5 separate regions of the Homo sapiens genome follow, and all the other regions are linked to region 1. The links come from fine-mapping of genetic effects on gene expression. A gene starts in region 1. Each other region holds a variant in brackets. All regions are shown on one strand. Distances are between the middles of the regions. Region 1 holds the start of STK39 (serine/threonine kinase 39). Region 2 has its middle 25 kb from the start of STK39. Region 3 overlaps STK39 (serine/threonine kinase 39). Region 4 overlaps STK39 (serine/threonine kinase 39). Region 5 overlaps STK39 (serine/threonine kinase 39).

Evidence for each region. PIP is the estimated chance that this variant, and not a neighbour inherited with it, causes the effect. A credible set is the group of variants that fine-mapping cannot tell apart.
Region 2: its variant is the best candidate, but not a certain one, in a credible set for the expression of STK39 in Th2 cells (Schmiedel 2018, PIP 0.71).
Region 3: its variant is the best candidate, but not a certain one, in a credible set for the expression of STK39 in whole blood (INTERVAL, PIP 0.75).
Region 4: its variant is the best candidate, but not a certain one, in a credible set for the expression of STK39 in T cells (TOPMed, PIP 0.54).
Region 5: its variant is the best candidate, but not a certain one, in a credible set for the expression of STK39 in whole blood (TOPMed, PIP 0.80).

What each region holds. Positions count from the first base shown.
Region 1 is chr2:168,244,927-168,250,032 of GRCh38, forward strand. It overlaps STK39 (serine/threonine kinase 39), which reads right to left and starts at 2,669. Exons shown (of 18, transcript NM_013233.3): 1 at 2,302-2,669. The coding sequence starts at 2,509. It overlaps LOC107985959 (a long non-coding RNA gene), which reads left to right and starts at 3,035. Exons shown (of 5, transcript XR_007087282.1): 1 at 3,035-3,142. RefSeq lists silencers at 1,555-1,754, 1,775-1,864, 1,955-2,004, 2,365-2,414, 2,625-2,874.
Region 2 is chr2:168,270,285-168,275,390 of GRCh38, forward strand. No RefSeq gene overlaps it. Among named protein-coding and RNA genes, the nearest start is that of STK39, 25 kb to the left of the region's middle. The variant T/C (reference allele first, on the strand shown) is at 2,684.
Region 3 is chr2:168,152,150-168,157,255 of GRCh38, forward strand. The region is part of intron 5 of STK39 (serine/threonine kinase 39); the gene reads right to left. Among named protein-coding and RNA genes, the nearest start is that of STK39, 93 kb to the right of the region's middle. The variant A/G (reference allele first, on the strand shown) is at 2,759.
Region 4 is chr2:168,183,246-168,188,351 of GRCh38, forward strand. All of the region lies in intron 1 of STK39 (serine/threonine kinase 39), which reads right to left. Among named protein-coding and RNA genes, the nearest start is that of STK39, 62 kb to the right of the region's middle. The variant A/G (reference allele first, on the strand shown) is at 2,959.
Region 5 is chr2:168,224,537-168,229,642 of GRCh38, forward strand. The region is part of intron 1 of STK39 (serine/threonine kinase 39); the gene reads right to left. Among named protein-coding and RNA genes, the nearest start is that of STK39, 21 kb to the right of the region's middle. The variant C/T (reference allele first, on the strand shown) is at 2,997.

The DNA of each region.
Region 1 (5,106 bases):
AACAGAAAGAAGTCCTGCCATTAATCCCACTCAACTTAAACTAAGATTTTATTAGTTCACAAAAAAATACTGTTTTCAAAAGGCAACGTTTGTATTTTAACCCTAATAATTGACCAAGTAGGTATATAAATTGATTATAACTTCTCCCAATCCTATGGACTCTATGGAGAATTATGTGGCAGATACCATTATTCAACTTTTATGGCCCACCTCTTCCTGTCAGAGTTCACAGCTGGTTAGTGAAGGCAACAGTGGAAATAATTAAGCACCTTACAAACTCAGACTTAAAACCCAGCTCAACTACGACCTCTACTAAGAAATACTCTGCTTCCTTCTCTTTCCTGGCAGTCACTCCCTCCTTCGGGCTCTCCCAGTACTTACTCATCACATCCTATAGGATCCTTTCCCTATGTCTCCTAACAACTTAGGGCAGGGATCACTTTTGTTAATTTCTATATTGCTAGCAAGTGGGGCAATGCTTGGGACACAGCAGGCCTTCAGATCTTGTTGCGCAAATAACAACTATGAGGTTACATGCTATGAGGTCTGTAAAAAGAGGGGCAGAAGAAACCACGGCATTTTGCCTTGAAAGAAGCAGAAGGCTTTTCAAGGAATATTCACACTCACCTTGGAAGCGGAGTGAGATTTAGTACACAAAGATGGGCACTCACAGGAGGGAAGAGCCTCTGCAAGGCAGCAAAGAATGGAAGACCAGATGTGCGGAAGACAGCGGTGTATTCAGGAAGCAATCACTGAAGAGTAGACAATGGGAGGAGGCAGGCAGGTTGAGGGTACAGGGCCTATATGCCAGGTTAAAGAGGTTTCCATGGAATATTCCAGGCTTTGAGAAGCCCCTGAAGCTATTTCAGGCAGTGACATGAAGACTCATCCCTTTAGAGTCTTTGGTCAAAAATTATGAAAGATCTGGGTTTTCAAAGAATTTTGTCTACAGATGCCTATTATAGGTTATCTGAAGCTTGTATATATCCTAGGTTACGGACCTGCCCAACATTTTCTCACATATTTTTATGTATATATTTATATATATATTTCCGTCTATGCTGTTTTATTCCCCAATAGCAGGTGATAAAGGCTCATTTAAACACCTAGTGAAATTTTTATATCTGTTTTAATTTTTTTAAAAGGAGGTGAAGAATTTTTTGAAGTGAAAGTTAGAAAAAATACTTAAGATAAATATTCTGAACTCCTTTTTCATCGCTGTACTTATATACCAAGATTCTGGAAAGGCAACATCCCATCCCTGCGTCAGTAAGGTTAGACGCTGAGGGCCCACTTAACCTGGAGGCTTCCCTAAGTGACAAGACTCTCAAACTGGATGATCCAATAGGGAAGGTTCTAAGTCAAGGGACAAAACAAATCTCCTGGCCCTTCAAGTGCTTGGCCCAAGGAAAAGTAACGCCGAGCCCTGCGACTCTGCCAGGTATTTAAAAATGTAAGATAAGGTGATATTTGTGAGCCGGCCAGAAGGCAACGAAAGGCAGAGAGCAGATCACCGGCAGCCTCGGATTTCACTCTTGCAGCTCGGCCTGAAACAGAGGGAAGCATCGGCCCGGTGCAGGGCAGGAGGCCAGGGCACCCGCTTTCCCCGGGGAGCCGGACTGGGCGGCAGGCGGCGCACCCTGGCACGGAGGGAGGCGGGTACCCGGGCGCGCCGAGTGGCGCGGAGAGCCGGGCTGCAAGGCGGGCGTGGAGTGGCGGCTGTCAGGAAGAGAGGCCAGCATCCTCCCCGGCCTCAGAAAAGCACTGGGGCCTCCGCGGCTTCTACGTGGCCCCGTTACCCACGACGAGAGGGTCACGACGGGAGGCAGAGGAGCGGCTGCGCCCGCAGAGTCCCCCAGGACGCGGCCCCCGGGGCCCTGGAAACCCAGGGCGGGGCCCCCGCAACCACACCCCACCCGCGGCTGCCTGTCCGCGTGGCCACCGGCCACGGGCTGCGGTCCCGGCACGCGGGGGGAGGAAGATGCGGCGGCGCCGCCTGGTCCTCCGCTCCACCGCCCCGGCGATCCCTGAGATAAAAGTTTGCAGCATGCGGCTCGTCTGCAGTGCGAGTCACATCCGCCGCGCCGCCTCCTGCAGCACCAACGCTCATAGAACGAACAAATACATTAAAAATTAAAAAAAAAAAAAAAAAAAAAAAAAAAACTGTTGAAGCCAGTAGGCCCCGAAGCCGGCCTCTCTGCCTCCAGGGCGTGCATGCAGGCTAGCCCAGCATCCCGCGCCCCCTCCCGCCCGGCCTCGGCGCCCGGCCTGTGCCGGCCCCGCCGCGCCCGCCGCACTGACCGATAACCTCCTGCAGCTCGTACGCGTCCCTGCAGATGGGCCAGCCGACAGCCTGTGCCGCCGGGGCCGGGGCCGGGGCCGGGGCCGCGGGAGCTGCCGGGGCCGGCGCTGCTGTCGCGGCCGCCGGGGCCGCCGCCGCCGCCGCTGTCACCGGGGCCGCCTGCTGGGGAAGCTGGACGTGCACGGGCGAGCCGCTCGGCTCCGCCATGATGCTGCGGAGGAGAGCAGGAGGACGCGCCGGCCGACGGACGACCTTCCACTTGAAACTTCCTTTGCCTCGCCGCCGACACCTCTCGGCCGGCGCACGCCCTCCCCGCCCGCCGCCGCCGCCGCCGTCCCCGCCGAAGCCAGCTAGGAGGGGAGGGAGCAAGGGAGGCCGAGCTGGGCGGAGGGAGGAGGCAGCGCCGGCGGAGGCGGGGAAGGGAGGAGGCGGCGGCCGCTGCGCTCGCCGCGCGCCCAGAGCCTAGCGCGCGCTGTTCTCCGCCTCGGCGAGGGGAACCGCCGCCCCCCCTCTCCGCCGCCCCCTCCCGCTCCCGCTCCGCTGGCGGCCGGGGAAGTTCCCACCAAAGGAGTCAGGCCGCTTTGTGTGTGCTTTCGGGGCCACCGGCCCTGGTTCTCCTCCTCCCTCCCTGCTCGCCCTGCGCCTTGGCCCCAGACGATCAGGCTTGCCGGAGGACGCCCCCTGGGGACCCCGAGGGCGGGGTCGTTGAACGGCCGCCAGGTTCTCACATTCAGAATTCTCCTGCCACCAAAGAGAACCTGAAGTTCATTTACAAGTTGACGAGCGGGATACCTACATGGTGTCCCTTTGCAAGACGCCAGTTAGAAAATAACCCAAGTTGTAAGTTTCCGGCGCTTTACTTGCCGGTATCCCTTTCCCACCTTGCCTAATCTAATCGCAGTCCTTCTAGTTTTTCTTAGTAAATGAAACTTGATTCCTTAGGTCTCTGGCTGTTCAGACTTCATTTTTTCCAAGCCGCCTGGATCCCAGGGAGGCGATTTAAGGGGCTGTGGAATTAGAATAAGACATGCAGGAGAGGTTTAGAAAGTTTGCTCAAATTCTACACCCTTAATAATTGCCACGTTAGCCCGTGAGGACACTGAGGCCAGACATCAGGCGTTTCTTTAAGAGCGTATACTTGGTGGGGAAATAATTTATTGGGGCATGAATAAACTGTGTTGGAAGCTTTTAATTGCTGTTTTTTCAACACCCCAAAAATAACCTCGTCTGTAAAACTGCTATGGTAAAACCATAGGTTTTCCTAATTATAGGTGTCATATTTAACAGTGAATGTTCTCTGTGTTCCCTCCGTGGAGGTGACCAGGATCCACCGTTCTTGTCTCCAACTGAAACGGGGCAGTAAACCAATAGTATTGGTCGTTTGGCCAAGATGATCTTGTCTGGTTCTCATTGCTAGGACTGCTGAAGAAATAGGTAAGAATAATGAGGATGTAATAAAAACTCTAGGGATATCATGATTTTGTCTCCCGAGTGTATGTACAGAAATCTCACTAAAATTTTTGAAAGATTATTCAGAAGAAGCCCAGAAATTTATTAGGAAAGTTAGTTGTCTAATCAAAACATTGATGTCCACTGAAGATGAGGGCACTTAATCTCTTGGAGCATTACAAAAGTTGGAGTAAAGCAGCTACCTCGCTCTGGTCTTGAAGCAGAAGTTCATGCTGAACTAAGTGTACATTCTTTGATGCGGAGGACTTCAAAAACTGTGTCTTGTCATGTCTGTCAAGAAACAGAGCCCTTCATAAACAAATTCTAGGCCTCTGAGGAACAGGGGAGCTCTTTATACCAAGCCATGGCTGCTGACCTCTTCAAGTGCTGCCTCCACCCTACCCCAAAGAACTTTTAAGGACTGTTTTTAAAGGAAAAGAAAAATGATCAAATGAATATGACTTCCATTTTGTCATATGAATTTCTATTTTTGACTTTCAAACCATGAAGTGGGATTATGAAGACCAGGAATGTTCTTGGGACTTAGTAGGAAAACATGATGCCGTCAAGATCAATATCACAGAATTGAATCAAACACAGATCAATTAGTCTCCCACAAAAAGCAACTGTTCCCCAGTCACAGACTACATGTCGGTCTCTAGTCAACCGCTTTCCAAATGGCTACCAGGATGAAGACTTGCTTGAGTGGATGACTCAGTGCACATCCATCATTTCTACAGTAAATCGGTTTAAAGAAGAATGTCCCCTGGCATTGCTCTTTGGCATCATTTTTATAAATGAAGAACAGAATATGAATAATATTTTAAAATTATACAAAAGCATTAGAGTTAATGTTTCTGTAAACAATTGGGTAAAATGGTACTTAAAACTTAGAAATATATGTTTTTTAGAAGTATTCAACTGATATGCACTTTTCCCGGAAAATCCATTACTAAATTTAAATTGAAAGATGGGGATGGAGGCGGGTGCCTTTAAAATATAAACAAGGTTTATTTCAATGCATAAAGAGTACATTCAGTGAGCGATGTTAAAAATAGAAAGGAAAAATAAGGGTCTAAATGTTTTTAAAGTGTATCCAACTGCCTCATGATGTGTCAGGGTTTCTCAATCTCAGCGCTGTTTTGTGTCAGATAGTTCTCTTCGTTGTAGAGGTCTGTTCTCCTGTGGTATGGTCTGAATGTTTCTGTCCCCCCAAAATTCATATGTTGACACTTAATCGGCAGTGGAATAGTATTAAGAGCCTTTAGCAGGAGATTGGGTCATGAGGACAGAGCCCTCCTGAGTTAGATTAGTGCCCTTATAAATGAGGCCGGAAGGAGCTTGATGAGGATGCA
Region 2 (5,106 bases), 25 kb after region 1:
GTGGATCAATTCAGCGTGAACAATATGATTTCTGTTGAGAAAATGAATTGGTTAATCTTAAATCACATCCAGAATCCTAGCTGTAAGAGAGTCTGGGAAGTGTAGTTACTAGTTTTCCAGCCTTGTCAGGTTCATGATTATGCCAAATGTCATGTTCAGGGTCAGGTTCCAGCCCATGCTGAGGTTCAAGAGAGTGGGTGGATGAGCAGAAAGAACACTCAGGGGTCGTGGGCAGGTGAAAGATGATTTTATTCAGCAGCAGCTCTCATCAACAGATTTCTCATACTGTCTGCCCTGTCATGGCTACTTAGTCTGGTGGCCCCCACATGTAGCTGCACAGCTGGCTCTCCCTTGCCTTCAGGGTCAGCAGCTTAACTCTTTCTCTCTCTGGGCACAAGTGACCTGAGCTGTGTCCTGGCTCCCCTCTGTCTATCTGCAAAGATAGACAGGTTTGGCTCTCTCTCTCTGGGCACCAGTGCACCTGCATAGTATCGAGAGGGCAATTATGCCTTTTACAGACAATAGTGGCTTAGGCCAAGTGGTAGCCTTCCCATTATGGCTAAATGGCTGTGATAACAAGTGGAGTTATATGCCTGTACTTTAAACTCGCTAAGTCACGCAGGATGTAAACATCCTACCTTGGTCTATCCTTGACCAAAGCACGGCCATATTCCTTACAAGCCTCCGCAGTACAGGAAGATGGGATAAATATGAAGCACCAATCTACCATATCTACTATAGATTGTTCTTGAAATTCTTCCTTTTATTCAGAAATTACCATTTTAGAATTATTAAATCACTCACTTAATTTCCTCAACCCCAGTTATCACATCTGTATGAAACTATGATTGTATATGATCTCCAAGGTACACTCTAGATTTAAAATTCTGGATTTTTCAATCATTTTAACTATGTATAAACCTGTACATACATATTTTTCTACGTGTATGTATCCACATAGTTTTCTAGACATTCTCGAGAAAGGATACTAGTTTAGAATTCTACAGCGTTTCTATGCTAACATTTTCAATTGGCTAGAGTTTAAAGATGTGCATAGAGTATATTAACTCTTAGGAAGGGGAGAATTTGTGTAGGGATGTGTGGTGTGTGTGTATACATGCCCATGTGTGTAAATGTATTGTGCATGTAAATTCATTCAGCCAGCTAAATTTTCTAATGATCAGAATTCCACATGACTAGGGAAAAATAAACTGGCAGAAATTCAATACAAATATTAGAGACTGACAATGAATCGGACTATACTTGAAGTTTTTGTTTGGTTTTGAATTCTTACATTTGCTTCCTACATTTCTTTTTTTTTTCTAAAATGAATCAGGCCCATTAAACTTCACATGACTAAGGTTTTCCAGATCTAAAAATGAAATAGTAAGTTGTGTCTTGCCATGTTGAATAACTATTATAAAAGTATACATTTGTGGGCTGGGCGCAGTGGCTCACGCCTGTAATCCCAGCACTTTGGGAGGCTGAGGCAGGCGGATCACGAGGTCAAGAGATCAAGACCATCCTGGCCAACATGGTGAAGCCCTGTCTTTACTAAAAATTTAAAAAATTAGCTGGGTGTGGTGGCACATGCCTGTAGTCCCAGCTACTTGGGAGGCTGAGGCAGGAGAATCGCTTGAACCCGGGAGGTGGAGGTTGCAGTGAGCCGAGATTCCACCACTGCCCTCTAACCTGGAGACAGAGTAAGACTCCGTCTCAAAAAAAAAAAGTACACATTTGTATTATTAGCTTGGTAATTAATTATATATAAATTGGTTGATTACTTATAATTTTACCACTAATTTTATTTTTATACCAGGCAGGGATCTTTGCATACAATTTATTTCCTTAACATTTGGTATATTATCTGTCTATATAATACAAGGACTAGTGTTTGATGTAATGGATTTGCAAAAATGGCCACAAATTTTTCCATACTCCATATCTAAGTCTTTTCATGATGTAACGTTTCAGCTCCTCCCATTAATAGGTGGAGTTTCTTTTCCTACTACTGGGATCTGGACTAGTCTTGTGACTTGCCTTGGCTAATGGAATGCTACAGAAACAATACCTGCCAGTTTCAAGCCTGAACTTCAAGAGCCTTGCACATGTCCCCTAGCTCTTTCGTAAACTTGATGAGTGACAATGTACACAGCCTGCTAGAGATCAGAAACAACATGGAAGAGTGCCAAGACACTTTAGCCAACAACGAGCCATTCCTAGTCAACCCAGAAACTGATCACAGTCATGTAAATTAGCCCAGCTGAGACCAGAAGAACCACCCAGCTCAGCCTAGCCCACATTACTGACCCACAGAATCATGAATTAAATAAATGGTTATTATTTTAAAGACTATGTATTGGGGTGACTTGTTATACAGCTAACTACTAGTCTCAGTTAACTTTCTTTAAATTTTCTGACTCCTACAAAAATTTGAGTTATTTACTTTCAAGAATAGCACTCTATTTTCTACTCAAAATTAATGTATGTTAATTATAGAAAATTTGAATAGTACTGAAATGCAGGAAGAGGAATAAAAATAGTATATGGTATACTACTGTAAAATAACCTTAATAAAATTTTAGTTTATCTGTTACCAGTACATTTTCTAAATATAGAAACATTTTTATATAATTTGATATATTTGCTTTCTTTCTTTTTTTATTATTATTTCTTTTCTTTT[T/C]TTTTTTTCTGAGACTGAGTCTCCCCTTGTCGCCCAGGCTGGAGTGCAGTGGTGTGATCTCAGCTCACTGCAAGCTCCGCCTCCCGAGTTCACGCCATTCTCCTGTCTCAGCCTCCCGAGTAGATGGGACTACAGGTGCCCGCCACCACGCCCGGCTAATTTTTTGTATTTTTTAGTAGAGACAGGGTTTCACCGCGTTAGCCAGGATGGTCTCCATCTCCTGACCTCGTGATCCGCCCACCTCAGCCTCCCAAAGTGCTGGGATTATAGGCGTGAGCCATCGCACCCGACCTCTTTTCTTTTCTTTTTTTTTTTTGAGACAGAGTCTTACTCTGTCACCCAGGCTGGAGTGCAGTGGCATGATCTCCGTTCACTGCAACCTCTGCCTCCCAGGCTGAAGCGATTCTCATACCTCAGCCTCCCCAGTAGTTGGGATTCCAGGCGTGTGCCACTGCACCTGGCTAATTTTTAAAAATTTTTTAGTAGAGACAGGGTTTCAGCATGTTGACCAGGCTGGTCTCAAACTCCTGGCCTCAAGTGATCTATCTGCCACCATGGCCTCCCAAAGTGCTGGGATTGCAGGTGTGAGTCACTGCGCCCGTGCAATTTGATGTATTCACTTTTTAAATAAAATTTTTATTTTAAAACATCCCTGAACATGTTTCCTTGCAATTGATGTTCTACAATTTTAAAAATGTTTGCTTCGTATTCCATCTTACATTAACTTTAAAATATTGTCAATTTAAAAAATCAATTCCAATTAATTGATATTATGAATAATGACATAATAAACATATTTGCACATTAACATTCCCATTAATAAGTGTATAACAGTGCCCATTTCACTGAGTCCTAGCCACTACTATATATTTACATTGAAAACAAACCAACTTTCCTGCCCTGATAGGCAAAAAAAAAAAACTAACTGTGCATGCATATAATTAATTAGAGTTCAATATTTAAGATTTTTAAGGTGAAATTTACAATGAAATACCCAAATCTTACGTGTATCATTCTATAAGTTTTTAACATGTAAACCCGAACCTCTATTAAGTTATAAAACATTACTATGAACCCCAGAAAATGCCTTCCTTCCCTTCTCAGTCAACACTTACCTTGCCCTTCAGAGGCAACCACTCTTCTAGTTTTCTCCATCATGGATTTTACCTGTTCTAGAAGTTTATGAAAATGGAATTATATGTAGTCTTTTGTTAAAAACATCTTTCACTCAGCATAATGTTTTTGAAATTTATCCATACTGTTGCATCTAGGAGCAGTTTCTTTCATTTTTTTACCAAGTAGTATTCCATTCTATGAATATACCACAGTAGGTTCAGCCATTCTTTTGCTGATGAACACCTGGGCTGTTTCTAGTTTTTGGCTATTGCAAATAAAGCTGTTATGAATGTTCTGGTACAATTGTCTTTTTTGTTCACATATGCTTTCATTTTTCTTAGGTAAACACCTAGGAGTAAAATTATTAGGCTCTTGGGTAGGTATATGTTAAGTTTTGCAGTGAATTGCCAAGACTTTTTAAAATGGTTGTACAATTTTATAGTCCCACCAAGAGTACATGAGAATTATGGTTACTCCACATCTTAGCCAGCATTTAGCACTGTCAGTCTTTTTAATTTTAGCCATTGTGGAGATGCATAGCCAGTCTACTTTTTAATTAATGAATATTGGGAATGTTTAACATAGTCATTTATATATAGCTCAAAATTTGAAAGGTGCAAAGACTATACAAGTAAAAGGTGAGTCTCTATCCTAGCCATTACTTTGCCACCCGGTTTTTGTATATACTTCTAGAGATAGTCTATGCATATTAAATACATACAAGTATGAATTCCTTTTAAAGATATTTTCACACAAAACCGTATCTTGTTTTTTAACCTAACAATATTTCAGTTATTATTTCATCTCAGTATACACAGTATTTAACCAGCTCTGTTTCCCTGCACTTAGATTGTTCCTAGTCTTTTGTTATCATAAAAAATGCTGCAAAAGATTTTCCATATGTGTGTGTAAATACAAAATTTTATATGTGAAAGTATATCTTTATGTAAACTCTTAAAAATGAAGATTGGCGAGTGTGATAGTTTTATATGTCACTTGGCTAGGCTATAGTATCCAGTTATTTAATCAAATCTAGGTATGCTATTAAGATATTACGGTTAATATTTACAATCGGTTGACTTTAAGCAAAGATTACCCTTAAAAATATGGATGGGTCTCATCTAATCTGTTGAAGGCCTTAACAGCAAACACTAAGGTTTTCAGAAAAAGGATGACTTCTTCCCCAACACTGTAGCATTAACTCCTGCCTGAATTCTCAGCCTGCTGGCCTGCCCCACATATTTTAGACTTGCCAGACCCTACAATCATCTGCACCAATCCCTTAAAATAACACTCTTTATACATGT
Region 3 (5,106 bases), 93 kb before region 1:
AGTGGTCAACTTTCTATTAAATAAGATAATTACACTGAACAAAGGAAAAACACAGATAATTCCCACACCACATATCCATTCTTCCCTGGATCCCCAATGTGGGGTGGGAGGACTATTTTTAAAGATGCTCTGGTAAAAGCAGCCACAGGACAGAGGCTTGGCTTACTCTCCTCTCTACACCCAAGACAATCCTCTGATTTGAATTCTTCAAAACAGTACTGAGAATGTCTTTAAGTGACTGCAGCTAATGAAGGGTTATTTGAACATTTTGATGCAAGATAGGTCCTTGGAGAACATCTTGTCAATCTTCCTTACTTTACAACGGAAGGAACTGAGCCCCGGCGCTCCTCAACCGTCAAAAGGCATAGAGTTAAGAAGTATATTGGTGGGGTAGGGGTGAAACCTAATGGCAAGAAGCAAAAGTGAAGTCTGAGGAGATTTGAGAGTGAAGTGCTTTTATGACTTTCAGAATGACCTTAAACAAGTCCACAATTGCTCAGCAGTCCTCAGATGCTTCATCTGAAGGAACTATTGTGCTGAACTGACAGAGTTGCTGTAAGGAGAGCACCAGGTAAGTATATTATACAGGTATTATTGTTTCCCAAGCCAAAGGCAAGCTTCTAAAGTCAGCGAGGGCTCCTGGCCGGCCATATCCGCAGAGACAGGCATGAACAACTTAGATCAAATATTAATAAGTCTAAATTTCCAATGCAATATTCATATACCTGCAGGTGATCTTTTTTAAACAAATCTTCACTCAACCAGCACTACTATCAGAAGCTTCCATTAAGCCACAATAGCCCATCTGTACATGTTAAAAATATGATCCCTATGGGAGAAGATTAAAATAACACAACTCCAGTTGCTACAAGTATTTAAGGAAACAATGCACACCATTGTTTTACAAAGTTTTCAGAAGGATTAGTTGAATCTTCAAAGAATCTGCAGATTTCCAAATCTGTGATAAAAGAAAACCTCACACTGAAAACTCCTAACATTAAAGAGTCACTGAACTATTGCTCAATATTCTTTTAATCTAAATTTACTATATAGTCAGATGTTTATTAATTCATTTGACAACTATTTGCCAAGATCTTACTAAGTGCCACTTCCAGTTCTAAGTACTGGGACTGTAGACCAGAAACCCCTGCTCTCACGGAGCTGACTTTTAAGTTGGGGCAGGAGTAAGGGGGAGAGGTAAATACAGATAAAAGCAAAATTACAAAATATAATACATAGTAGTAGTTCTCAGACTTCAGCCTGCTTCAGAACCCTTAGAGGGCTTCTTAAAACACAGATTGCTGGGCCCTACCTCTAGAGTTTCCGATTCAGAAGGTCTAGGGTAGGAGAACACAAGAGTTTGCATTTTTATCAAGTTTATGCTGCTGCTGCTGCTCTAGGAGCACACCTTGAGAGAGCCACTGATAGAGAGTACGCTGATGTGTACAATAAAGAAAACAGAGCAGGGCAGGGAATACAAAATATGGGGTGGGGGGGGGTTACAATATGAGGCCTGGAAGTCTCACTGATGTGACACTTGAGCCAAGATCTGAAGGAGGTAAGGAAAAGAGTATTCCAGAAAGAAGGAACGGCCCATGCAAAGATCCCGGGGCAGCAGCATGCAAGGTAAGGAGGCCGATTTGACTGAAGAGGAAGATGTAAGAGTTGAAATCAATGACATAATGAGGGGCCAGATCTTGTAAGGCCTCACGAGCCACCTTAAGGATTTTGACTTTCACTCTGAAATGGCAAGGGGTTGGAGGGTTTTGAGGAAAGGCATAATACAAGTCAACTTAGTTTAACAGCATTAATCCAGATGCCGTGTAGAGAACAGACCACAGAGGGGCAAAGGCAGAAGAAGAGGTCCTTTTAGGAGACCACCATAATAATCCAAACAAGAACTGATGGGTCTGTGGACCAGGATGACAGCAGGGAGCTGATGAAATATGGTCAACCATAGGATTTACTAACATATTGGATAGGATGTAGGGTCCAAGAGAACGACAAGGATCGAGGAATATCAAGATTTCTGGCCCATTCAATAGAAGAATGGTTCTCCCACTAAAAGAACTGGGAAAGACTGTGAGAAGCACAGTTCAGGAGCACAGGGGTCATAGAGTTCTCTATTAAAGTTATCCACTTGTTAGAGTTGCAAGGAAATTTGAGAGCCTAAGCACATCATTTTACAGGTGATACAAACTATGGCCAGCAAAGGGTAAGGACAGTAAGTTAATGACCACTGGGGGCCTAGACTGGCTACTGTGTCCTCAAGTGTACTACATACAATCAAGTGTTAAATCATATTCCACAGAATGTAAACACAGGTTAACACTATTTAAATGTCCTAAAAATCTGTAATCAACATATGATACATGCAGTAACTTATAAGATGTTATTGACCAAAACCTATTTACAATACATATTTAAAATTTATCCCCATTACAACCTATTCAACTAGTCCTAATGTGGATAACTTAAGTTACCCAGGTATAGGCATTCCCTTCACACTTAACACATTTTTTAAATTTATATAGTTGACTGTTTAATGTGTCACCTAAACTCCATGACAGTAGACACAATGTCTCCATTGCTTACCACTGTGTCAGCTGAGAGGACTGTGCCTAGAACATAGCAAATGCTCAATAAATACCTGTCAACTAACCACTGAGGATACACTGAAACCAAACATCTAATGTTTACCTTTTCTCCCACAGAAGGAGCAGGCTATACAAATGGAGGTTCTGGGAAAAAGAAAAAT[A/G]AACGAAAAAATAAGCAAAGGACCGAATTGCTCTGCTTTCAAGTCTAAAAACTCTTATTTTAGGCAGACCTCCATAGTATTTGGTAATATGTGAAATTTAATTTAATAATGAATTGCAGGCCCTTACAGGAAGGAAAAAAGAGAGGGAAGGAGGGAGACTGAGTCCCATCTGCCTCATGCCCCCCTAGACACTCTTCTGTGAAGCTCAACCCTGTCCCCCCTGCAGCTAAACGTGCAGAGCTGAGCAAAAATTCCAGCAGGAGAGTAGAGCAAAGTGGTTCTCCTCCACCGGGTTCACCCAGTAACATTTCCTTAAGCTGTTGCTCAAACAACTGCTAGCAGCTGTTAAAGCATGAGAAGCTGCTTACAATCTCCCCAAGTATTTCTCACTGATGGTGTGCAGCTGGAATGAAAAACTCAGTTTCCAGAACTGAGTACATTCTTGGTTCATTCTAGAGCTCTTATCAAATGTTACCATTTGTCGAGATACCAAAAATCAGGGAGCCACATTAATTTACTGTCCTTATTCACTTATGCCAAAAAAAAATTCATGTATGAGAATTTTGTCGTAATTCATCAAACCATAATTCACATAGTTATAAACTGTTCCTGAAACTCAAAACAAATATTTCGGTTCACTATAAAGCACTTGCACCCCCCCCACCCCAACAGATTTTAATTTTCATGTGTATTCTATTTTCTGAGTATAACCAGTTGCCTCTTCATTCATGTTCTCTGCTTCACTCTTCCTTAACTTTAGCCTCATGGCTTGCAGGCTAGGGCAGTGCTTGTCCAAAATCAGAAGTGATATTCCCCATTAAAAACTATTTTCAGCCTTTAAAATATGCAGTAGTATACATACCTAAATATTTAAAATATTTCTGCCTCCCTCCCTGCTAAGCTGATATATTCTTACTCATTTCAACTCTCAGCTATGCCTTACATCTGTTCTCTTTGCCACCAACAGGCACATGTACTTGCATAACCTGCTGCTGAGACAGGGTGTCTCCCGTGCCTCTAGGCAGAGTGCACTGACCCAAAGTTCAGGAACACCTGCCATGTATCAGGTACCATCTGGGAATGCTGCGATGAACAACACAGTTTCTCCCTCTGGGAAGTATCCAGTCTGAAGGGAAGATGGGAAAGTAAAGGCCCAATGTCAGTGCTGTGTCATAGGCTAGCTAGAGTATGGCCAGAACCCTTGCAAACCACCAGGGTGAGGGGCTTAACCTGGTGCAGGTGGGCATGGTGGAGGAAATGATCATGAAAGGTTTCTCAAGGAAAGAATTCTTCATGAATAAGTCATGAAAAGAAGTTACTCAGGTAAGAAAGGGGAACCCTGAACAAGAAGCTATAAGCATTTCAAGTCACAGCAGAAAGCACTTGCAGACATGACCAGAAAAACAGGCAGGTCCCTCATCTGCCATTAGTAGGAAGCTGGAGCTTTATTCCATCAACAATGCTTTATTCCATCAACAATGCTTATAAACTTTATGCAAGAGGAAGATACAGTCAGATCTACACTGCAGATTCTTCACTCTGGTGATATTGAGGAAACTGATGGGAAAAAGAAAAGAGCAAAATAACACGGCAGGAGGTCAGATGGAGTGCCTAAGGCCTCGCACCTCCCTAGCCACCGTGAGCTTACCACACCCTAAGTAATTAGAGGACACCATCCCAATTTCAATACGAAAGCAATGAGTTAGCAAATTCTAAAATAAAATGTGTTTTAACTCCTTTAATGCCGCAGTATATTCTCATTACACAAACGTGCAAAATGAGGCACAGAGAAGCTAAAGCTATAACTTGGTTACACAGCTAGAAGGAGCAATGCCAGGACTGAACTATGGCTGTCTGGTGTCAGAGCCCATGCTCTGGGCCAAGGTGCTCATAAATGTGATGACATCATTTCCTGATTGGATGCCTCCGGGGCTTTCAGCGCTTTCCCACACTAATCAGAAGCTGACTCCAGCGCTGCTCGGGTGCCTTGCTCAAAGCAGCAGCCTCTCTTCCCTACAACACAAAAAATAACTCTTAAACCCCTACCCTCCCCATCAAAGTGCACTTTATGAGGGCCAAAGGCCACAGAAGGAAAATGAAAGAACCTAGCAGCTATGGGTGTAAAAACTCAACCACCTTGCCCATCTTCCTCTAGCTCCTTAATGGATAACGCCTAAGTGACAGAAGCAAGTTAAGTTTCATTGCATGTTTTCCTAGCACTTTTAGTCATGGGGTTTTCAGTGTTCAAGATGCAGATTTAAAATGAAGATGTATTCAAGGCTGATAAGGATATTATCTCCCTCCCAGTAAATAAGAGATGCTACCCAAAGTTCTACCAATGTACCTTG
Region 4 (5,106 bases), 62 kb before region 1:
ACCCTACTCCTCCAAACCCAGGTCTCCAACTTAAAGACTACCATTCCAGGGAAGCCCAATTTGTGTTCACTGGGAAAGAAAATCCACACACACATACTGACCACCCACTGCACAGTAGACACTTGACTCCTTATGAGCCTGTACATTTTTATTACTAGCCTCATTTTACATGGGAGAAAACCGGGACTCAGAAAACTTGCCCAAGGTCACATAGAGCTAATAAGTACCTGAGCCAGTATCAGCATCACGCCTGCCAGACTCCGAGATGTGTGCTTTTGTTCTACTTCCCACAAGCCAGAGCACATGCTTCCCTTCCTCACTTGTTTTGGCCTTGCTAGGAAAAAACTTTCTTCCATCCTATATGGTTCAACAGAAGACAAACAACCCAGACCAGGGTCTGCATGAGCCTCATTTGCTAGAGCTGTTTGGGAAGAGAGTGCTATGGACAGGTTGCTTCAAAGGGCCTTCCTCTCCCTAATCTCACTGCTCATCCATCAGCTGCTACCCCATTGGCTGCTACTCCAGGTCCCACTAGTTTGGCTTCACTGGCCCTGCAGATCACAGCCCACTGGGTTCAATCCAGAATGGTCCAGATGGCAGAGCCAAACAATACAAAAAGTCTGCTGATAGCAAAGTATATTTTCCAGTCTCCGGAACAAGACACTATCACTGAAGGGAGCCACAGAGAAAGTGCTATGCAGCTGGTTAGCACTGGGCCTGGTACCCAGCAGAGAAATCAACTAACATCTTTAGCTGCTGGTGGGAAACCATCCTCAGCTCTACCTGCAATAAATCTCCCCCCAGCTCAGCTTCTCCATCCTTAATCTACATTCCAGAACATTCACAAATCAAGGAGTTTCAAAAACAGGAAAGAATAAATTAATTCCCAGAAAGGACAAAACAAGCGTATGTAATACAGAGATACCTCTCATAGTTAAGTCCTTGACAGTAAAAGTCTCCTAACCTCCAAGGAACAAAAAATAAGAATTCTAAAAACATGGAGGGGTAGGTGGTGAGAAAAATCTTTTATTAAAGCTTTACAGCTAGAGAATTGTTACTGCTTTACAACTACAGCTAACTAAGGAACGACTGGCTACTTCTCATCTCTAGACAGAATTATGAAGCTTTGTGACCTGAGATCATTGTCACAACATGGATGGATTTAACCATTCATTAAACAGTTTGGGAGATTCTACTCTAAATCCAAAGATTTCCCTTCAACTATAGAAGAGACCAAGAACAAAGTTAAAGGTGGAAAGGCACCTTAGAGAGCATCAAGTCCAACCCACCCCCTCACTTTATGAATGAGAAAACAGGGTCCTGTGAAGGATAGGGATGTGTTTCCTGCAGCAATTGGAAAGCACAGGATTAGGACCCTAGGCATACTTATTCCTTATCTACCATTCTGTGCACCAGGTTGGTGTTTTTTCAAATTGCCAGTGAGGATCCACTGGTCACAAAATCAACTAACTGGGTGGAGGCCAGCATTGTTTAAGGGAAGCATCAGAATGTAATAAGGGTAAAAACTGCTTTATGAAACTTTTGTTTCACTTACGCCCAAGCTTTAGTATGACATGTTTTACTGTAAGTGATGATCAAAAGTTTGGAGTCTGCTAGTACTAGATTAGGATTCCCAGGATTAGAGTAAATCCATGCTTTGAAAGGAAAGGAGGTGACCTAACTGCATAATTCTAAAGGACATTTAGAAATAATACCAACACTGTCTTGCTTTAAGGGTTTTTATGCACTTTGCTGATTAGTTTAAGAGGAAGCTAAAAAATGTGGGGCTTGTAAATACAGGAACTGGACAAGTGTTAGCAACATGAAATAAAATAAGAGCAATTACTATGCTGAACAGCACCTTGTATTTATTTTGAACAATATATGATACTGACACATGACTCATTAACATTAGTAGCATATTTTCAATGAAGTATCATGCACCCCTTTTGGAATAAGAGTTCTTAACATTTTATGAATTTCTCATTTTATTCCTGACTCCTATTTCAAGTGCAATAAATCATTCAATAGGATTATGGCCTGTATGCACATATGCACAAGTTAAGTGGGCACGGCTTTAAATCTTTTCAGTTCACTCTTTTAAGTCACTCTATCTCAATTCACTTTTGCTAAGTAATTCCCGACTAAGAACAGCTACTTGGAAGTTTTAGATAGTGATTATGTCAATGGCAATCAGAGGTAAGAGATTGCTCACGTTCATTACCATGATGCAGATTTTTCCTTTAGTTGACACCTCTTCTCATTTTCCCCTCTGTACTGCTGCTGGTATTAAGGTAAATAACCAGAACACTGCATACCTGCATTTTATACTTTCAGTTATCCAAAGAAATATTTCATGGAAATATAATTTAGTATTCTAACTTTGCATTTCACTAAGGTCTATGTGAAATTAACATGAAAAACTACAGTGTTTATTTTGCAAAAATCACTACTATTGTCAAATGCAGTTTCAACAGTATGTTCAAAGTCCCTACTCCCATGACTCACACAATAACTTCCTCTTTGCATTTAGTGCATTTAGTGCAAAAAAGCAGCAAAAAGATATTTGCTTATATTAATTCATCAACAAACAGTAATTAAATCCCTGCCATGTAGCAGGCAGTTCACTAGATAATAAAGTGCCAAAGGTGACCATTCCTGCTTCAAGTGGAATAAATCCTTCTATAGGATCACTTCCTCTGCAGAAGTTAACAGGGATGACTAAAATGCTGTTGTGGACTGAATGTCTGTGTTCCCCTAAAATGTCTTTGTTGAAGCCCTAATCCCCAATGTGACTATATTTAGAGATACAGTTAACAGATAATTACCACCTTTATGGAGGTAATTAAAGGTTAAATGAGGTCATCAGGACAGAGCCCTGGTCCAATAGGATTAGTATCCTTACAAAAAGAGACAATAGAGAGCTTACTTTCCCTCTCTGTCCTATGAGGACACAGC[A/G]AGAAGGTGCCTGTTTACAAGCCAGCAAGAGAGCCCACCAGAAACTGAAGTGGTCAGCACATTGATCTGGACTTCCTAGACTCCAGAACTGTGAGAAATACATTTCTGTTGTTTAAGCCACTCAGTATATGGTATTTTGTTACAACAGCCCAAGCAGACTAATACAAAAGCCTTGAAATGTCTGTTCAAAGTCATTCTTCCACTAACACCTATGGCAGAGAATGCCATACTAATTAGAAGTTCTTAGAAGCTTCCTGATTAAGTCAACAGCAAATGGCAAGATTCAACTGAAAGGCCTCTGGTAGCTCATTGTAGTTCCCATCTTAGGTTAGTAGGAGCCTTGAAAAGAAGGTTAGACAGGGATTCTATCCAAACGTGGTATTGATTCCCTCTGTGACTTTCGACCTAACTGCTATCTAGACTTCAGCTTCCTTAATGGGCATAATAAAATACACCTTTAAGGCTTCATAACATAATATATTTCACATCCCTGGAAAACATCAACTCAATAAATGTTAGGCTCTCTCTCTGGGACTCATTTCTCCATCTGTGACATAAAGGAGGTAAACTATATCTACTGTTTATATGGCACCCAAGGGAAAAGAGGGCAAAGTGGCTCAGGGTCAGAACTGAGTTTCATTTTGCTTAGCACCAGGAAGATTAGACTGGTTTAAAAGAGAGGCTAGGAGAGCTAAATTTGGAAACCAAAGAACTAAATGATTTCTAAAGTCTGATACAGCATGATGAGCATAAGAGTTTAAAATATAAGAGACAATCCAATTCAGAAACAGCTGTGAATTAATATTCCATAGCAAAGATTGTCATGTATAATGCACTTTGATATCTAACCTTAAAAAGTTATTTTAAGGCCGGGCATGGTGGCTCACGCCTGTAATCCCAGCACTTTGGGAGGCCAAGGCAGGTGGATCACAAGGTCAGGAATTTGAGACCAGCCTGACCAGCATGGTGAAACCCCGTCTCTACTAAAAATACAAAAATTAGCCAGGCATGGTGGTGCATACCTGTAATCCCAGCTACTCAGGAGGGTGAGGTGGGAGAATCACTTGAACCCGGAAGGTAGAGGCTGCAGTGAGCTGAGATCATGCCACTGCACTCCAGCCTGGGTGACAGAGTGAGACTCCATCTCAAAAAAAAAAAAAAGTTATTTTAAAATATCTATGTCAATCCAGATTGCATGGGTTCATATCCCAGACCTGCCACATACTAACTGCTTATGCTTGGATGACTTGCCTAACTTCTTCATGCCTCAGTTTCCTCATTGGTAAGACGGCAATAATGCTACTTCACTCATAGAGTGGTTGTGAGGATTAAATGAGTTAACACAAAAAAAGTCTTTGAAACTGTGCCTAGCACATAGTAAGCACTAATTAAATCTTAGCTAGCGTTGCTCCTTAGGGAAATCCCCCCAGGTCAACTGGTGTCCTGTCAATCTGTCATTTTAATACCACGTAATATTTCATAGTATTAATGTACCATAATTTATTCAGCCCTCCTTCTGTTGATGAGTATCCCCTTTATTTCTAGTTTTCATCCCCATATGAACAATGTAGCAATAAACATCTAGTACTTTTTTTAAAAAAATTAGTCCATAAGAACTTTACGTTAAAGTTAAGACGTCAATTGTCCAGTAACCCCTTCCCATAAATGGCAAGATTTTTTTCAAGGCATCACATTAGCCTGTAACATTAGTTATGGCCCCTGGAAGGAAGTTCTAATCACCATATTATATTTAAATGAGAAGCACAAAGTTGGAACTTTAATAAGAGTTTGACCATCTCTTAGCACGTGCAAGAACTCCTTAAGTATGCTCAGCTGTCCTTTGCCAGTGAACAGAGTCAAGAGTGGGCTCAGGCTTTCTTTTTAGAGGTGCTAGCTGGTGATGGATAGTAAACAAAACAAATGGCTTTGGTTCAGCTGATTTATTCTAATCCTGCCTTTCCCCAGCTTACTCTTTGAGCTCTATTTATATCATGTGTCCAACCTCAAAGCCCACAGGCCAGTCAGTCACATGAGGACCAGAAGCTGGCCAGGAGAGGACTTGGATGAATGGACACACATGTGAGCTCTACAGGAGTACAAGTGCCACTCTGCTTCAGCCAACTGTCACCATCTGAGATCGCTGACCTG
Region 5 (5,106 bases), 20 kb before region 1:
CTCACCAAAGCAATCAAATAGAGATTAACATACCTGTCAGCTGAAACCAGGCTGTCAAAATGAAAGCCTTAAATTACACATGTCCTTAACAAAAAGGATTTAAGAGATTTTTCTCCTAACTAATAAGGAGCACTGCATAGTTTTTAATAAAACAATAATGTTTAATTTTGCTTATGTGCTAAAAAGGCATTTTTAAGGAGATTAAAACGCAGATTCAAGACCACCAGAAGAAACTTTCCAACATGAAATCAGACCATTTGGTCATCTCTTCTGAGTACGTTGTTCATTTGTCTTTTACCCAGCAACAATTCCTGCAAAATGATAATCAAAACAGCCTTTTGGTAAACAGGAGCTTAAACACTGTCTCTCAAATCAGATTACATTTCAAGTGATCTGAAACTAAGACAGCACTTCATGAACATGGTTCTCATTTTAAAAAGTCACAGGGAAACTGCCCTTTGAGGTTCTGAGGGACACAGACACCAAAGTTTAGGACTCAGCAGTTCATGATCACTGACATATCCAACCCTCTAGCCATCGTTTTGAAAGTGAAGCAGAATGGGGTTCAGGAGGAAGAGAACAGGGCAAAAAGGGATACTTAATAGTGACCCTGAAGAGGAAAACAAAGCAACCTTGAGAAATCTTCCAGGGGATATTAACAAACTTGCATCTCTGAAACACTGGACCACCAAATACATCATAAAATTTGGGAGGATCAGATTCTCTTCTCAATATCCATGGAGAAGATACTGCTGATAAAACTATCAAATACATCATAAAATTTGGGAGGATCAGATTCTCTTCTCAATATCCATGGAGAAGATACTGCTGATAAAACTATTGACATAGGAAAGTTAGTTCCTCAAAGAGTATCAGGTTCCAGGTATATTTTTCAGAATTTTATCACCATTACATAAACAGGATGAACTACTTCATAGTACTTTAAATCCAGCAGAAAAGGCAAGACCAGACCATATCTCAGGATTCGGGTATCATTATTTCAGAATTTAAGACAATTTATAACTGAAACTGGGCATAAGATTTCCCAATTTACAATCCATAAGGGAAAAGGGAGGTTCTTCCTAGGGAAGAAAGTTATTTATTGACTCAAAACAATAAACTGCTCTTTAAACACATTGTAAGTATATATTTTAACAAAGAAAGTACATTAGATCAGGATTACATTTTGCTGATTAGGGTGACATGTCGTCTCTGTCTCGTGACCAGTTACTTACCTAAGAGCAGTATTACATAAAACACTCACTAGTGGTGCCTGCCACACTTGTGATTCCTTCCCAGGCAGGAACTTCCGATGCTACACCCTTCTCCAAGGAGGGTGTCTGAGTTTAGGGCAGTCAGGTGTTCTATGAAGGGACTCACTAAAAACTAGATTCTCAATCTTTGGGATTAAGATTGGGAAATACAGACAGAATCCAGCAATTAGCAGCCATAGTTGCGGCTAACAGGGAAAGAAGAGAGAAGCTGGATGGGCCATAAGGAGCTATGAGTGAGCCAAAATTCTGACTAAGTAGAAACAACATGACAGAGAAGACATGCACAGATAGTAGGTAAGAAAGCCAGGTAAAAACAGCCAGAGAAGCAGGTGGGCATGAGCAAAGCAAACACATGCTGATTGGCCGGTTACACTAAGGTTAGAGGATCCAGAATAGTGAGGATCCAAAGTTTCCTGCTGCTGAGGTCTTATCCACTTCCCAGTCCATATGCAGACATTTCACTGCAATTCCCAAGACCGAGACCCTCAACTTTTCCAGGATGCTAGAAAACCCAGGATTATGGATGAGATTCCTGTCCCCCTATTCCCACATCTACCTTTATAAAGAATGCCCCATTATTTGGGTAATTTTAGTGAGTCCCTGTTCCTTACAACCTAAAGGGCAGATTAACCAATTTTGTTATATTCTATAATCCAGACTGCTCACCAACTCAAAAAAATCTTTCCATAAATTTGCTCATACAAATAAACTTCATCACACTTCATTTTTTAGACCATAAGTGATGCAACTTTCATTCCCTAAACTGAGGCAATAATTTTTTCTTTTCCAATCCACAATTACCCAACCATCCCACCCCACCTCACCCCACCCACCATTTTCTCCTGACCTTAGATATTTTAGGTCTGGGTCAAATCGGGAATAAGGCAAGATGCCTTCTCACTATAACTCCCTCTTACCTTTAAGGTCAGTAATGGGAGCAAATAAGCTAGCATTTAATTAGTACAACTGGAAGAAATTGTCACAGTATCTATCAAAAGTATAAATGCAATACCACTGGCCCTGGCCATCTGAAATTCTGGATATCTATCCCACAGAAATAATAAAAACTTGGAAACAATCAATAAGTTCATCAATAAAGGAATTAGTTAAGTAAATTCAGCTGCACTCATAGAATAGCAATGGATCCAGAATACACATTTTTAAAGGAGGTGGATCTCTGAGAAATAGCCTGGAATGACAGCTGTGAATATTTATAATGTGTATACTTTACTAAAAATATTTACAGAAAATATACAGAAGTAAAATACCCAAGTAATATATATATATTACTTTGAAGAAGTAAAATTTACAGATTGCAGAACAATACGTATAGTTTCCACATTACATGTAAAATTATTACATTTTGGAAAAATCTTTATGTAGATGTATACATAGAAAAACATCTGCAAGGATACACACCAAACTGGCCATACAGGCCATCTCTGGGCAATGAAAGTTGGGAGTTATTTTCATCTACTTGATTCATAAATATTATACATTTGTAACTTAAAAAACATTTAAAATAAAGACTAGTCATGCCAAAAGCTATTTTGTCCTTTTGTTCTAAATACTATAAAATCCTTAAAATTTAGCGGACCACAAAATTCAACATTCATATCATCAAATTAAATTCCTATTCATTTCTCCCACATCCGCATGAAATCACACAGCTAGTTCTACAAAAAGATACCACATATTTAATTCATCTAGAAAATCCTCATG[C/T]TGCCAGCTCTAGGTTTCATACGAAGTCACTATGAAATCCAAAAGTCACTACTCTGTTCAAACACATCCACAAACAGTAAGAAAGTTACTGACTCTTAACTTCTCTCTGTGCCAGAACTTTTTGTAAAACAATTTTTCTTTTTTATTTATTTATTTTTTTGAGACGGAGTCTCACAGTGCAGTGGCACAATCTCAGCTCACTGCAAGCTCCACCTCCCAGGTTCACGCCATTCTCCTGCCTCAGCCTCCCGAGTAGCTGAGACTACAGGCACCCACCACCACTCTCGGCTAATTTTTTGTATTTTTAGTAGAGATGGGGTTTCACCGTGTTAGCCAGGATGGTCTTGATCTCCTGACCTAATGATCCGCCCTCCTCAGCCTCCCAAAGTGCTGGGATTACAGGCGTGAGCCACCGCGCCTGGCCAAAACGATTTTTCTACCAATCAACGAAGTGCCAAATATCAGAATAAGGTGATCCAATAGTATCTAGAAGACAAAAGGCAAAGTATAATAGATACTCCTAAGAAATCTAAGTCGTAACACAGACATTAAGAGTAGATTGTATTAGATGTATTCCGTGATTCTGAAAACATTTAAGTATGAGAAAAAATACACTTAACACACTTTGCAGTAATCATAAGGCATGCTTGTCAGTGTATGCCAAAATCTCAAGAAATAAAATCACTTTTGCCAAGCAAGTATTAATCTAAGACTAGTTTATTTTACTTGCCGTAACAAATTAAATGTGAAAGTACTGGGAATACAAAAAAGGTAGACATTTCTAAAAATATCAATTTACACTTTTTTTTTTAAAGTTCTATGCCATGTAAATATATACTCCTACATCAAAATTCAAACAGTGTCTAGCCTTGGGTGATGAGGTTACTTTTCCTCCTTTTCACTCATCAGTGTTGTATAAATTTTCTACAATGACCTTATATTATTGTTTGTATAATATTTGAGAAGTATAAAATAGGGCCAGGATCAGCGGCTCACACCTGTAATCCCAGCACTTTGGGAGGCTGAGGCAGGTAGATCACCTGAGGTCAGGGGTTTGAGACCAGCCTGACCAACATGGTGAAACCCCATCTCTATTAAAAATACAAAATTAGCCTAGTGTGGTGGTACATGCCTGTAATCTCAGCTGCTTGGGAGGCTGAGGCAGGAGAATCACTTGAACCAGGAGGCAGAGGTTGCAGTGAGCCGAGATTGCGCCATTGCACTCCAGCCTGGACAAGAGTGAAACTCCATCTCAAATAAATAAATTAATTAAATAAGCTTGGAATTTTTAATAACCTCAGAGATCCAGATAACATCTTTTTCTCAGTGCTTTTTCCTTACATGAGAAAGGAACTCAGGCCAGCCACAGGAAGGACACTCCACAATTCTAATCCCACGTCCAGACCTGTCTTCCAATGTAATAAACAGGTCACTTAGCCTTTAAATCTCTAACTTTATAAAGATAACATTTAGCCCTCTTCCCACATCTAAAAGCATATAATATTTTATGATAAGGGCTTTTACCAGACTTTACAACTTAATAAAAGGTAAAATAGGCCAGGCGTGGTGGCTCACACCTGTAATATCAACACTTTGGGAGGTCAAGGCGGGTGGATCACAAGGTCAGGAGTTTGAGACCAGCCTGGCCAAGATATCAGCCTGGCCAATATGGTGAAACCCATCTCTACTAAAAATACAAAAATTAGCCAGGTGTAGTGGCAGGTGCCTTATAATCCCAGCTACTCCAGAGGCTGAGGCAGGAGAACTGCTTGAACCCAGGAGGCGGAGGTTGCAGTAAGCTGACATTGCACCATTGCATTCCAGCCTGGGTGACAGAGCAAGACTCTGACTCAAAAAAAAAAAAAAATTAAAAGGTATAACAGTACATCTCCCTTCCTTCTATTATTTCTAAACAAAACAAAAAAAACTAAAACAAGAACTAAAAAAAATGAAGAGAGGCAAACTCTGTAATTCTGTCAGTAACTATTACAAAGCTTCTAATATTTCTATCCTAATAGGCTAGCAATTCTTTTTGAAAAACTGTGAAACGGGGAATAAAATATTGCTGGATTGACTTCAAAGTAAAGAAACTTTCTTAATTAAGCAAAAA